Regions from separate parts of the Homo sapiens genome. Here region 2 is linked to region 1. The links come from fine-mapping of genetic effects on gene expression. Tissue or cell type: cerebellar hemisphere. Region 1 holds a variant in brackets; the other region holds the start of a gene. All regions are shown on one strand. Distances are between the middles of the regions.

Region 1 (8,074 bases):
CCAGGTCCCCTCACCAAGGTCCCCCCCTATGTCCCCTCACCAGGTCCCCTCACCAGGTCCCCTCACCAAGGTCCCCCCCATGTCCCCTCACCAGGTCCCCTCACCAAGGTCCCCCCCATGTCCTCCTCACCAGGTCCCCTCACCAAGGTCCCCCCCATGTCCCCTCACCAGGTCCGCTCACCAAGGTCCCCCTATGTCCCCTCACCAGGTCCCCTCACCAAGGTCCCCCCCATGTCCCCTCACCAGGTCCTCCTCACCAGGTTTCCCTAAGTTCCCTCACCAGACCACCCCTCACCAGGCCCCCTCACCATGTTTCTTTCACCAGGTCCCCTCAACCAGGCACCCACCCATGAAGTCCCCCTCACTGGGTCCCCTCACCAGGTCCCCTGTAACCAAGTCCTCCAGGGCCCCCTCCCTAGGGCTCCCTCAGCCAAATGGAAATCCAGGCAGATACCATGTAGGCAGGTGGGACAGAGCACAGAGCCGACAGCACCGCATGGCCCCCTTGCCAGGCTCAGACAGGACAGAGGTGTGGAGAGGAGGGCCGGGGCAGTGAAGTGTCAGGGCTCAGCACCCAGGGTGGCCAAGGATGGGGCGGTTCCACTCAGCTGTGCCCCCAGAAGAGACCATAGATTGGGCAGCTGAAATGCTGGAAGGTTCTGGCTGTGGGAGAGTCTGGGATCCAGGGTCAGGATCAGGGTCTGTGCTGGTTGTGGTGGGTGTGAGTCAGTGTGGGCGCTGGGGCTGCCCTGGCTGACCTCAGAGGCTGCTCACCTGCGGCTCCCAACCCCCTTGGACATGGGTGTACCTTTTTCTTGGCCTTGTCAGGGGTCCTCTTGGGGCTCGACACCAGCTTTCAGATGCTGAGCACCCCCGCCCTGACCTAGCCCATGGGCGACATGGGGTCTGTGTCCACCCAGTCCTGGACACTTCCTCTTTCTGGGGCTCCCACCTCATACCGCTGCCTCTGCCGCCCGTCTCCCTCCGGACGCCCCCTCCAGACGCCCCCTCCGGACGACCACGCAGTGTTGTCTGGCTCTGTGCTCTGTCCACCTGCCTACGTGGCGTCTGCCTGGATTTCCATTTTGGGTCTTGCCTGTGGTGTGCCTGCTCCTGTGTGGACCCTGTGTGTACCTCTGTGGGGACTTTCACACGTGTGTTCCTTGAGTGGGATCCTCTGTATGTGGGTCTGTGTGTGTGGCTGTGGCCCTGTGTTCCTGATGTCCCCATTTGTGTGTACCTCTGTGGGGACTTTCACACGTGTGTTCCTTGAGTGGGATCCTCTGTATGTGGGTCTGTGTGTGTGGCTGTGGCCCTGTGTTCCTGATGTCCCCATTTGTGTGTCCCTCTGTGGGGGACTTTCGCACGTGTGCTCCTTGAGTAGGATCCTCTGTATGTGGGTCTGTGTGTGTGGCTGTGGCCCTGTGTTCCTGATGTCCCCATTTGTGTGTCCCTCTGTGGGGACTTTCGCACGTGTGCTCCTTGAGTGGGATCCTCTGTATGTGGGTCTGTGTGTGTGGCTGTGGCCCCGAGTGTGTTCCTGATGTCCCCATTTGTGTGCCCCTCTGTGGGGGCAGAGACAGGAGCCTGAGCTGCGGAAGAGGCTTTATTGATTAAACGGTTTGAGGATACATTTCCATGTGGGAGGTGGTAGTGGGCGTTGTGTCCACGGCTGCTTGTGTGGCAGGTCCTATGGCTGAGCCATGTCTGAGGTCCACTTAGGCACCGTCCTGACTGCCCAGCACTTGCACCTGGAAGGCAGACACATGTGGACTAAGAGGGCTGTGCTCAATAAGTGGAGAGCCACAGCTCCATCAGGCAAGCAAGGCCCTCAGTGGGGGGGGGTCTGGCATATTGCTGCCTATCTCCTCCCAGCAGCTGGGAGGTGTGTGTGCACATGTGATGGTGTGCACACATGTATGTGTGTGCATATCCCAGTGTGAGCATGTGGGTGTGAACGTGTTTATACATGTGTGCACGCAGTGTACATTTCATGTCTGCACCTGTGTTTGGATCTCTGTGTATGTTCACATGTGTGCATGGAGGAGTATCCCACAGACTGGGGAGGAGGTCTATGGAGTCTGGGGGCTGCTCGGTGGACAGGAGGTCTGGGGTGTCCACCTGAGCTGGCTGATGCGGGTGCAATGTCTGTGGGTGGTGGATGTCTGTGGGTGGGGTAGGCTGTGTGGGTGCTGTGTTGGGTGGTCTTGGTAAGGCTGCAGATCTTTAGAAAATGGGGTGCCCGCCGCCCTCATACCAGCAGCTTGACCAGCTCCGCCTTGTGCATTGGCTGCAGGCCATCTATACAGGACTTGAGTTCAGTCATTGCTGCCTTGGCATCTTCGTTGACATTGTACTTGCCCAAGGTCCCCTCATAGAGCTCCTCTGGGGTCCCCACCAGTAGTGTTTGCAGGAAGTCCATGAAAAACTCATCGTTGTCCTCCCCTGTGGCCATCCCTGCATCACGAGCGAGATGATGCCAGGACAGGACAGGGTGACTCTGGTGCAACCACAGCCCTGGACCTGCCCCAGGGCTCCAACCTCCATGGTCTCCAGACCTTCCCCTTCAATGCCCACCTCTCCTCCCCAGGGCTTCCTCCACAACACCTCCAACTCCACCTTGCCCGAAGACCCCTCCACATCCCCCTTAATCTTAGCTGCTCCAATTTCCACTCAGCATTCCCTGGGATCACCAGGGAAGGAAAGTTAAGCTCCTGGTGTGGGGGAAATTTCCCCTGATGAGAGGCTATTATGACCAGAGGCTTGAAGGGTCAGGTCAGGCTGGACTGGGCTGGGGTAGGAGACACTGGGCTGGTGTTGGGTCAGCTGGGCTTTGTCCTTGGTTGGGGTGGAGTAGGGTGGGCGCGGGTTCTGCAGGGTCCTTGCCCACTTCTGTGACAGAAGCAGGTGGAGTGTTCACTGCAGAGGCCCGATGCCAGGATTTTACCTTCTCAGGTACCCCCCACTCCCCCCCACCCCTGAATGTTCTGGAAACCCCAGTGGCACAGACTCACGGCAGATGCAGAACAGGGTGAGGGCCACCAGCAGGAGGGCACGGCTCCCCTTCATGCCAGCAGTCTCAGGAGCTGCCTCCAGCCAGAATCCCGGGATTTTATGCCTCACCGGACAGCACCTCTCCTAGAGGGCGGACCGGACCTGCCCATTAGGACCCGGCAGCCAGCTTAGATGAGGTTTGTTCACATCCCTGGCCCCCAGTGGGTGCCAAGCAGCAACAGGCATGGAGTGGCTGTGTGACAGGTGGTTGGCAAGCGGCTTTAGGGTGTGTGAGAGAGAGAACAGGTGTGTTAGGAGGGAACACTGGTGAGAGGCCATGCCAACTGATCGGTGAAGAAGGCAGTGGGTCCTGGCCACCAAGGGCCTCTAGTCATGCCTGCCCTTGAGGCCGAGAGTGGTGGGATCTGGGGTTGGTCCCACGCCTTTCTTTTAAGGTGCGAATCCCTCCTCTTATCAGTGTGCTGTGTGATCTGGGTCTGCATCTGGGGGTCTCCAATCAGGCAGGGGCCCCTTACTACTCAGATGGGGTGGCCGAGTAGGGGAAGGGGGTGCAGGCTGCACGAGTGGACACAGCTGTAGGACTACCTGGGGGCTGTGGATCTATGGGGTGGGGAGAAGCCCAGTGACAGTGCCTAGAAGAGAGAAGGTGGCCTGAGAGGGTCTGAGGAACATAGAGCTGGCCATGTTGGGGCCAGGTCTCAGCAGGAAGTGAGGAATGGGACAGGCTTGAGGTACATCTTCCATCAGTAGCCAGGATAGCAAGGAGGGCTTGGGGTTGCTATCCTGGGGTTCAACCCCCCAGGTTGAAGGCCCTGGGGGAGATGGTCCCAGGACATATTACAATGGACACAGGAGGTTGGGACACCTGGAGTCACCAAACAAAACCATGCCAAGAGAGACCATGAGTAGGGGTGTCCCAGTCCAGCCCTCTGACTGAGCTGCATTGTTCAAATCCAAAGGGCCCCTGCTGCCACCTAGTGGCTGATGGCATCCACATGGCCCTGGGCCACACGCGTTTAGGGTCTCTGTGAAGACCAAGATCCTTGTTACATTGAACGACTCCTAAATGAGCAGAGATTTCCACCTATTCGAAACAATCACATAAAATCCCATCCTGGAAAAAGCCTGGGGGATGGCACTAAGGCTAGGGATAGGGTGGGATGAAGATTATAGTTACAGTAAGGGGTTTAGGGTTAGGGATCAACGTTGGTTAGGAGTCAGGGATACAGTAGGGTCACCGGTAAGGGTTAGGGGTTAGGGGTAGGGGTTAGGGTTAGGGTTAGGGTTAGGGGTTAGGGGTTAGGGTTAGGGTTAGGGTTAGGGTTAGGGGTTAGGGGTTAGGGTTAGGGTTAGGTTTTGGGGTGGCGTATTTTGGTCTTATACGCTGTGTTCCACTGGCAATGAAAAGAGTTCTTGTTTTTCCTTCAGCAATTTGTCATTTTTAAAAGAGTTTAGCAATTCTAACAGATATAGACCAGCTGTGCTATCTCATTGTGGTTTTCAATTGTAACCACATTGTGGTTTCAATGTGTTTACTTGCCATCTGTAGATCTTCTTTGGTGAGGTGTCTGTTCAGATGTGTGTG[C/A]ATTTTTAGTTGGGCTGTTTAACTTATTGTTTAGTTTTAATAATTTTTTATATATTTTGAAGACAAATTCTTTCTCAGATGTGTATTTTGCAAATATTTTCTTCAATATGTGGCTTGTCTTTTTGTTCTCTTAACAAGGTCTCTTCCAGAGTATAAACTTTAAATATTAAGAAATCCACACTGTCACTTCTTTTGTGTATATCTACCTTTTGTGTCATTTGTTAAAATTCATTACCAAACCCAAAGGCAGATAGCTTTTCTTCTATTGTTTCTTCTAGAAATTGTATAGTTTTGCATTTTTAGTGTAAGGATGATTTTGAGTGATTATTTGTGTAAGTTGTAAAGTTTTCGTCTATATCCATATCATTTCTTATGGTTTCCAATTAATCGTTCCCTCACTATTTTTGGGAAAGACACAGGATAGTGGGCTTTGTTAGAGTAGATAGGTAGCTAGACATGAACAGGAGGGGGCCTCCTGGAAAAGGGAAAGTCTGGGAAGGCTCACCTGGAGGGACCACCAAAAATTCACATATTAGTAGCATCTCTAGTGCTGGAGTGGATGGGCACTTGTCAATTGTGGGTAGGAGGGAAAAGAGGTACCTATGCAGAAAGAAACACCCTAGAACTCCTCTGAAGATGCCCCAATCATTCACTCTGCAATAAAAATGTCAGAATATTGCTAGCTACATGCTGATAAGGCCAAAGGGGACATTCTTAAGAGAAACCTGGCACCATAAGTACAGATTAGGGCAGAGAAGGACATTCAAAAGAGGCAGGCGCAGTAGGTACAAACGTGATCGCTGTCAGTGTGCCTGGGATGGCGGGAAGGAGGCTGGTGCCAGAGTGGATTCGTATTGATCACCACACATGTACCTCAACCAACAGTGAGGAGGTCCCACAAGCCTAAGTGGGGCAAGTTGGGGAGCTAAGGCAGTAGCAGGAAAACCAGACAAAGAAAACAGGTGGAGACTTGAGACAGAGGCAGGAATGTGAAGAAATCCAAAATAAAATTCCCTGCACAGGACTCTTAGGCTGTTTTAATGCACGCTCAGCCCACTCCTCCCTATTTTTCTACAATAAACTCTTTACACTGTGTTTCTTTTCAATGAAGTTATCTGCCATCTTTGTATTGCCTCTTGGTGAAAATGTTTCTTCCAAGTTAAACAAGAACTGGGACATCAGCTCTCCCCAATAATAGCTCCGTTTCAGTTTGAATTTACAGAACTGATGGGGCTTAATAACTGGCGCTCTGACTTTAGTGGTGCAGGAGGCCGTCACACCGGGACCAAGAGTGCCCTGCCTAGTCCCCATCTGCCCGCAGGTGGCGTGCTGCCACGACACCGACAGCAATAGGGTCCGGCAGTGTCCCCAGCTGCCAGCAGGGGGCGTACGACGACTACACTGTGAGCAAGAGGGCCCTGCAGTGTCCTCAGCTGCCAGCAGGCGGCGTACGGGCACCACACCATGAGCAAGAGGACCATGCAGTGCCCTGGTTGCCAGCAGGGGTCGTGCTGCCACTACACTGTGAGCAAGAGGATCCTGTCGTGCCCCCAGCGGCCAGAAGAGGGCGTGCCCCGACTACACTGCAAGCAAGAGGGCCTGGCAGTGTCCCCATCTGCCAGCAGGCGGGCGTGCTGCCACTACACTGTGAGCAAGAGGGCCCTGCAACGTCCCTAGCTGCCTGCAGGCGGCGTGCCGCCACTATATTGCGAGCAAGAGAGCCCTGCAGTGCCCCGGCGCCAGCAGGGGGCGCTGGCCACCACTGTAAGCAAGAGGGCCCTGCAGTTGCCCTAGTCGCTAGCAGGGGGCGCACTGGGACAGCACCGCGGGCAAGCGGGTCCTGTAGTGCCCGGCTGCAAGCAGGGGGCGCCCGAGCCCGGCTTTTTGGATTACTGAGGTTCAACCCGTCTCTGCGCCGCGCCCCCGAGGACGTGCGTCTCTGCGCCTACAACGCTCCACCCCCGCGCTCTCGTCCCGGTGGCGCGTGACTCTGCGTCTGCACCACCCACCTCCCCCCAAACCCACAGCCTAACGACGTGCGTCTCTGCGCCTGCGCCGCGCCTCCCCCCGCCCCCCAGGGGACGCGCCACTGTGCGCCGGCGCCCGCGCGCCGCGCCTCTGTGCGCCTGCGCCGGCGCGCCGCGTCTCTGTCAATTTAGAAAGCTTATTTTGCCAAGATTAAGGACACGACCATGACACAGCCTCAGGAGGTCCTGACGACGTGTGTCCAAGGTGGCCAGGGTAGAGCTTGCTTTTGTACATTTTAGGGATACATGAGACGTGTAAGATGTACAGTCATTTGGCCCAGTAAGGCGGGACAACTGGAAGCAGGAAGTGGGGGTGCTTCCAGGTCAGAAGTAGGTTAGAGACAAAAGGTTGCATTCTTTTGAATCCTTCATCAGCCTTCCACTGAATACACAATTTAGTCTGGCTCAATGAATCTGCATTTTTACATAAATAATAGGGCAGAGGAAGCAATCAGATATGCATCTGTCTCAGGTGAGGGATGACTTTGAGTGCTGTCTGTCCTTTGTCCAAAAGGAAATTCTTTGTGGGCAAATTGTGAGTGAGGTATGTAGCTTTTTATCTTTGTAGCTATCTTAGTTAGGAATAGAATGAGGGCAGGTTTGCCTGACATAGCTCCCAGCTTGACTTTTCCCTTGGCTTAGTGATTTGGGGGTCCTGAGATTTATTTTCCTTTCATGGTATCAGAACAGAGAAAAGGTAATGCGTTGAGCCATGAGCTTATGACAAGATGGCTAGGAAGGAATTTTTCAGCTCCATTTTTATGTCATGGGACCACCATCATATGTATGCAATGCACGAGTGTAAAATCACATTTAGTTAAGTCAGCTTACACTAAGCTATGGACCCAGATGGTCCTGGGGCCTTTTTCCACTGGGAGATCTTTAAGGACCTTTCTTAGCTTTTCTATGCTAATTGGTATATTCATAGTTGCCTTATTTCAGGGCCCATTTTGTTAATGTGTATTTTTACTAGGAAATCACCCATTTTTTCTAGGTTTCCAGTTTGATGCAATTATTTGACTTTTAATTTCTCCTCTGTTTTTAGTTTTGTACATAATTTTCCTATCTACTTTTGCACTCTTTTTTCCATCAACAATATTTTTAAAATATACTTTTTAGCTTTTTTTGAAGAATTGTTATGTTTGACAATTTTTTATGACCTAATCATGACCGTAAATGATTTTTAATTAATTTCAGCTTAATGTCTTTTGTAGGGCACAACTGTTAAAATACAGAATTACAACAAATGTGGGTTTGCAGATCTTAATTGGCTTTTTTTTGTGGTTCTAGAATCAGGCAGCAGTCCAGACCAAAAATGGTTCAGAATGATCTGCCACACAACATGTGCGGGTTATATTTATAGCCAGAGGAAAAAAGTGACATACAGAAAACAGAAGTGAGGTATAGAGGTGGCTGGATTGGTTACAGACCTGGTTACAGCCCGGAT
Region 2 (5,404 bases), 500 kb before region 1:
TAGTTGCTCACTGTTATAGATTGAAGTTATGGGGCTTGGGGGAAAAACTGTATAAAAGCCTTAAGTGATGTAACATTTTAATAATTAATATGAAGGGCGGCTATAACCAGATACGCTGTTCTAACAATTCCAGACCTGCAGGAGCTCATTCTGACCGAACGTAGCCTTGGCTTTCAGGACAACATTTTTTGTCAGTGACTTACTATAATCACAATGTGGCTACGAATAGCTGTGTCAGGCAGAAGTTAAACATGGAAGTGAAAGAGAACAAGTGTTTTCCCTGATGTAATGGACAAGATGTGTTAAGAAATCTTGTTTTGGTATACACTTAGTTTTTTTAGAGACAGGGTTTTGCTCTGTTGCCCAGGCTGGAGTGCAGTGGCCTGATCACAGCTCACTGCAGTCTCAACCTCCTGGGCTCCAGTGATCCGCCAGCCTCAGCCTCCCACGTAGCTGGGACCACAGGCTCCCTGAGGTAATTTTTTTTTTTTTTGAGACAGAATTTCGCTCTTGTTGCCCAGGCTGCAGTGCAATGGTGCGATCTTGGCCAACTGCAACCTCCGCACCCCACCCCCCCCACCACCACCACCGGGTTCGAGCAATTCTCCTGCCTCAGACTCTCAAGTAGCTGGGATTACAGGCATGCACCATCACGCCAGGCTAATTTTGTATTTTTAGTAGAGACGGGGTTTCTCCATGTTGGTCAGGCTGGTCTTGAACCCTCGACCTCAGGTGATCCGCCCGCTTTGGCCTCCCAAAGTGCTGGGATTACAGGCGTGAGCTACTGCGCCTGGCCTTCCCCGGGGTAATTTTTAATTTTTTTTTTGTAGAAGGGGGTCTCGCTCTGTCGCCCAGGCTGGAGTGCAGTGGCGCCATCACGGCTCACTGCAACCTCGACCTCCTGGGCTCAAGTGATCCGCCAGCCTCAGCCTCCAGAATAGCTTGGCCCACAGGGGTGCGCCACCGCCTGGCTGATGTTTACAGTTTTTTTTTTATAGAGGGGGTCTTGCTATGTTGCCCAGGCTGGCCTCAAATGATCCTGCAGCCTCGGCTTCCCAAACTGTCAGGCTTACAGGCCTGAGCCACTGCGCCCAACCTAAACTTAATTTTTAACCAAATGAAAATACACAAAACAAACCTGGTTACTAGAGGCTGTCCTGCCTATGGAGTAGCCATTCTTTATTCCTTCAAAACAATGCACCTAATTACTAGAGAACACGCACGAAGGTTTGGCACTTCAGCGCCCGCGTATGGGAGTTCTGGCTGTACCCACAGACAGCAGAAGGCGGCTCCTCTGCAGGATGGCCGATTTACTGCTTTGGTCTGTCCCTTCCTCCTCTCGGAGGCGAGTCTCTCAGGCAGGACGGCTGAGGCACCGGCGCCCGCGATTTTCTTTGGCGAGAGTTCCAAGGCTACCGAAACCCTGCGCCCATCCCGCCCACGTGTCTTCACAAAAACCACGCGCGGGACAAGAGCTGCCGGGGACTGGGGCCCCCAGAGCCGCTCCGCACCCACCCTGCCCGGGGCCAGGCGCCCGCGCGCGGGGGAGCTCTTCGGGGTGCAGGACGCCCGCCACCCAGGCCAGGCCAGGCCGCGCTTCTCGATGGGGTGACGGAGCTGTCTCGCTCACGTAGAGACGGTGGCACGGCCCCGTGAGCGCACCGAAAGCGGAAACCGGATTGTCACCACAGGGAAACGCCGCGCCCGCCGCTGCAAGCCCGGAAGCCCCCACCCCGCCCGAGCTCACCTCGCCGCGGGGCCGCCATCTTACCCGCCCCGCCCGCCGGTCCGTCGCGATCCCGGCAGCCTCTCGGCCCGCGCGCTCGCGCTCCTTCGGCCATTTTCGCGTCTCCTGACGAAGGGGCCCGACCGCGCCGCGTTTCGGGAGCGGACGTCCGAGCCACGGCCGAGGCCCGATTAGTCCGTCCGGCACCGCTCGGGCACTTTCGGAAGGGAAGAGGTGGAGAACCGACGTTCGGGAGCATTCGGCCTCGGGGACATTCGGCTCGTCTCGGCTCGGCCTCGGGCTGACTCGGCTTCCGCCGGCGGCGGGAACGGGCGAAACCCGCGGCACTAAGCTCTCTCTGAGAGGCAGAATTGCGCCGGCCGCCGGCGAGAATCTGCCTAGAGCCGTCCAGCCCTGTCGGCCGGGGACGACAGCCGCCTCAGCCTGTCAGGACAGTGAGGAGAGCAGGGGCCGAGTCTCTCGGAAGCCCTCGTGAGGACTCGGACCTATTCGGACTGATTCGGCTTCCCACTTCGGGGAACTTCGACCCTCCTCGGTTCAGGACTCGGTCTCGGCTCGGCGGCTTCGTGCAGGTTCGGCTCCTACTCGGGCAGCCTCTGTTCGCCTCGGCTCCGCTCCGCGGGCGGACTCGGCTCGGCTCTGCTCGGCGGCTGGCTGCCTTTTCGGTCCCTATTCGGGCGGCGGCTTCGGGCGGCCTCGGCCCAGCTCGGGCGTCCTCTTCGGGCCCCGCTTCGGGCTCCGCGACCGGCGCTTCGGGCGGTCCCGGACGGCGCCTTCGGGAAGGCTCGGCGGAGTCCGGATGGAGGACTCGGACTCGGCGGCAAAGCAGCTGGGCCTGGCTGAGGCGGCGGCGGTGGCGGCCGCGGCCGCTGTGGCGGCGGCGGCCGCGGCCGCGGCAGGAGGCGAGGCGGAGGAGCCGGTGCTGAGCAGGGACGAGGACTCGGAGGAGGACGCAGACTCGGAGGCGGAGCGGGAGACGCCGCGGGTCACGGCAGTGGCGGTGATGGCGGCGGAGCCCGGGCACATGGACATGGGCGCCGAGGCCCTGCCCGGCCCCGACGAGGCCGCCGCTGCCGCAGCCTTCGCAGGCAAGTGCGCCCGCCGGCCTCTCGCCTCGTCCGGTTCCCGCGCGCCTACCCCGCGCGCCTGCCCCGCACAACTGTCCCAGGTGACCAGCCCGCCACACCTGTCCCTCACACCTGCTCCACGTGACCAGCCCGCTCCACCCGCCCTGCACACCTGCCCCTCACACCTGCTCCACGTGACCCGCCCGCCCCACCCGCCCTGCACACCTGCCCCACGTGACTAGCTCACCCCTCACATCTGCCTCTCACACCTGCCCCACCCGCCCCTCACACTTTCCCCACGTACCTGCTCCAGGTGACCAGCCTGCCCCACCTGCCACAAATACCTGCCTCGCACACCTGCTCGACGTTTCCAGCCTTCCCCACCTGCCCCACGTGATCGGCCTGCCCTACCTGCCCCGCACACCTGCCCCACATACCTGCCCCAGGTGACCAGCCTGCCCCACCTACCCCAAACACCTGCCCCGCACACCTGCCCCTGGTGACCTGCCTAGCCTCACCTGACCTGGCCCTGCCCTGCACACACCTGCCCCCTGCCCCCCTTTTCTTTGTGGCAGCCCCGCCTCCTACTGGTCCCCCCTGTGCAGCTCTGCCCCTGCCCTGCCTTCGTCCATCCTGGCTCCCCCCACCTGTCCTGGAGAAGCCCTGGGGTGGGTGGGCACCTGTGGTCACCAGGAACCCCCCACTTCCTGAGGGCCAGTTCAGGCATGACCTGAGCGCTGGGGAGCCAGGGGTGGGCAGCCTGCTGGAGGCCATGATGCCAGAGGTCAGCGTGGCTGTGTGGTGGCCCAGGGGGGCTGCGGAGCCACCTGTGCAGGCTCCCCTCCCAGTCCTCCCTCTTCCTCTTGCCTTTTTCCCTAAGGACCTGCTCCTCCTGCCCCGCTTCCTGTCGGGCTTCCTTTGGGGAGGCTGCTGTGGCTTTCCAGTCCACATTTTTATATAAGCTGCTTATAGTTTCTTGCCACACAGGTCAGTCTCCTTCTCAGGCTCCAAAACACTGGGAGCCCGTGGCAGAGCTCACAGATGCCCTACGGGGCTGGTGCCGTCCACCCACCTCCTGTGTCCCGCCCTTGTGTCCGTGGGGCATAGACTTCCCCACCCACTGGCTTCCTAACGCACTGTATTCTTCCCCATTGGAGTTCCCGAGTGTCCCCCAGGGACTCACAGCTCAGTGTTGAGACCCTTGGGAGGAGCTTCTTGTTGCGTTGTGAGGCACTTTTCCCCTACGGAGCTTTGCGGGTTGAGGAACTGGATCCCAGTCCTGGTGTGCTGGGTATGTCAGGGCATTGCGTGTGCTCTGGGTGCTTGTTCGGCCTGGGGGCTGGGTGGGGGCCAGCAGCGTCTGGGCTGCCCTTGGTCAGCTGAGTGGCCCTCGAAGGCAAAGGGGTCACTGCTGCTTGTTTGGTTGGTTAAGAAAAAAAAGTGAGGGAAGGCTTTGTGACTCTCAGGGGTTGGCGTCCGTCGCTAAACTCTGGTTTGACGTTGGGATTTGGAGCCATGAGGTTGATTTCAGGTTTTTGTCATTTTTGCACGTATTTTTCTGAATGCATAAAAGAAAAATGATGCTGTTCATCATGATGTCAGAGAAATGTGCTGACGTGTGTTTTCTTCTGAAAAATATGGTAGTTGTGTTTTGATGTGGTAAAAGCACTTTAATACTTTTTAAAAATTACGAACAGCTGACGTCAAGTGGTTTCCAGGTTTAAGTAACTCAGCAGGACACGCTGCCGCCTGAGGAGGCTTTGGGCGGCTGCTCCCAGGGCTGCCATGGGCCTGGCGTTGAGCACTCACTGTGGCCGCGCGCCGCATGCCGGGGCTTGTGGTGCTGAGAGGCGAGGATGAGGGAACCGTGCACCTGGTGTGGTCTGGTCGTGGAGACAGACAGCAAACATGCCTTTTTTTTTTTTTGAGACGGAGTTTCGCTCTTGTTGCCCAGGCTGGAGTGCAATGGTGTGATCTCAGCTCACCGCAACCTCCCGCCTCCCGGGTTCAAGTGATTCTCCTGCCTCAGCCTCCCGAGTAGCTGGGATTACAGGCATGTGCCACCACGCCCGGCTAATTTTGTATTTTTAGTAGAGATGGGGTTTCTCTATGTTGGTCAGGCTGGTCTCGAACTCCTGACCTCAGGTGATCCGCCCGCCTTGGCATCCCACAGTGCTGGGATTACAGGCGTGAGCCACCGCGCCCGGCTGCAAACAGGCATTTTTAGGGCAGTTTGGTGAGTGCTGGGTTAATGGTATGGTCAGGACTCATTCAACCAGTATCTTTTAAGCATCTGCTGTGTGCCAGAGATTGCCCTGGACACAGGACATTCTAGAACTCTGGGTGACAGAAGAGCCACTTGCTTGGCCTAGGAGCATCACAGGAAGACTTTGCAGAGGCAGAGAGGAGGGTGTGGGGGTGTTGGCGGCAGAAAGTGTTTCTCTAGAAACACTCCAGCATGTAGAGGCTGGAGCTGCAGGACCTATCTGGGATGACAGGGGCAGGAGGTGGGGTGCAGCTGACCTCTGTGGTAACTGCCCTGTGTGCAGATGCTGCTGAAGGGCCTGTCTGCATGCCAGGGGGCTGAGTT

The links. PIP is the estimated chance that this variant, and not a neighbour inherited with it, causes the effect.
Region 2: DEAF1 starts here. The variant in region 1 is fine-mapped to the expression of DEAF1 in cerebellar hemisphere (GTEx, PIP above 0.99).

Annotation. Positions count from the first base shown.
Region 1 is chr11:188,095-196,168 of GRCh38, reverse strand. It overlaps SCGB1C1 (secretoglobin family 1C member 1), which reads right to left and starts at 3,091. Exons shown (of 3, transcript NM_145651.3): 1 at 3,015-3,091; 2 at 2,258-2,457; 3 at 1,594-1,751. The coding sequence starts at 3,069. The coding sequence ends at 1,719. The variant C/A (reference allele first, on the strand shown) is at 4,601.
Region 2 is chr11:692,190-697,593 of GRCh38, reverse strand. It overlaps DEAF1 (DEAF1 transcription factor), which reads left to right and starts at 2,372. Exons shown (of 12, transcript NM_021008.4): 1 at 2,372-2,835. The coding sequence starts at 2,547. TMEM80 (transmembrane protein 80) reads right to left here and starts at 1,778. Exons shown (of 5, transcript NM_001042463.3): 1 at 1,748-1,778. The coding sequence starts at 1,766. RefSeq lists enhancers at 234-773, 1,314-1,853, 1,854-2,395, 2,396-2,935 and silencers at 1,381-1,800, 2,301-2,600, 2,611-2,730, 2,751-3,000.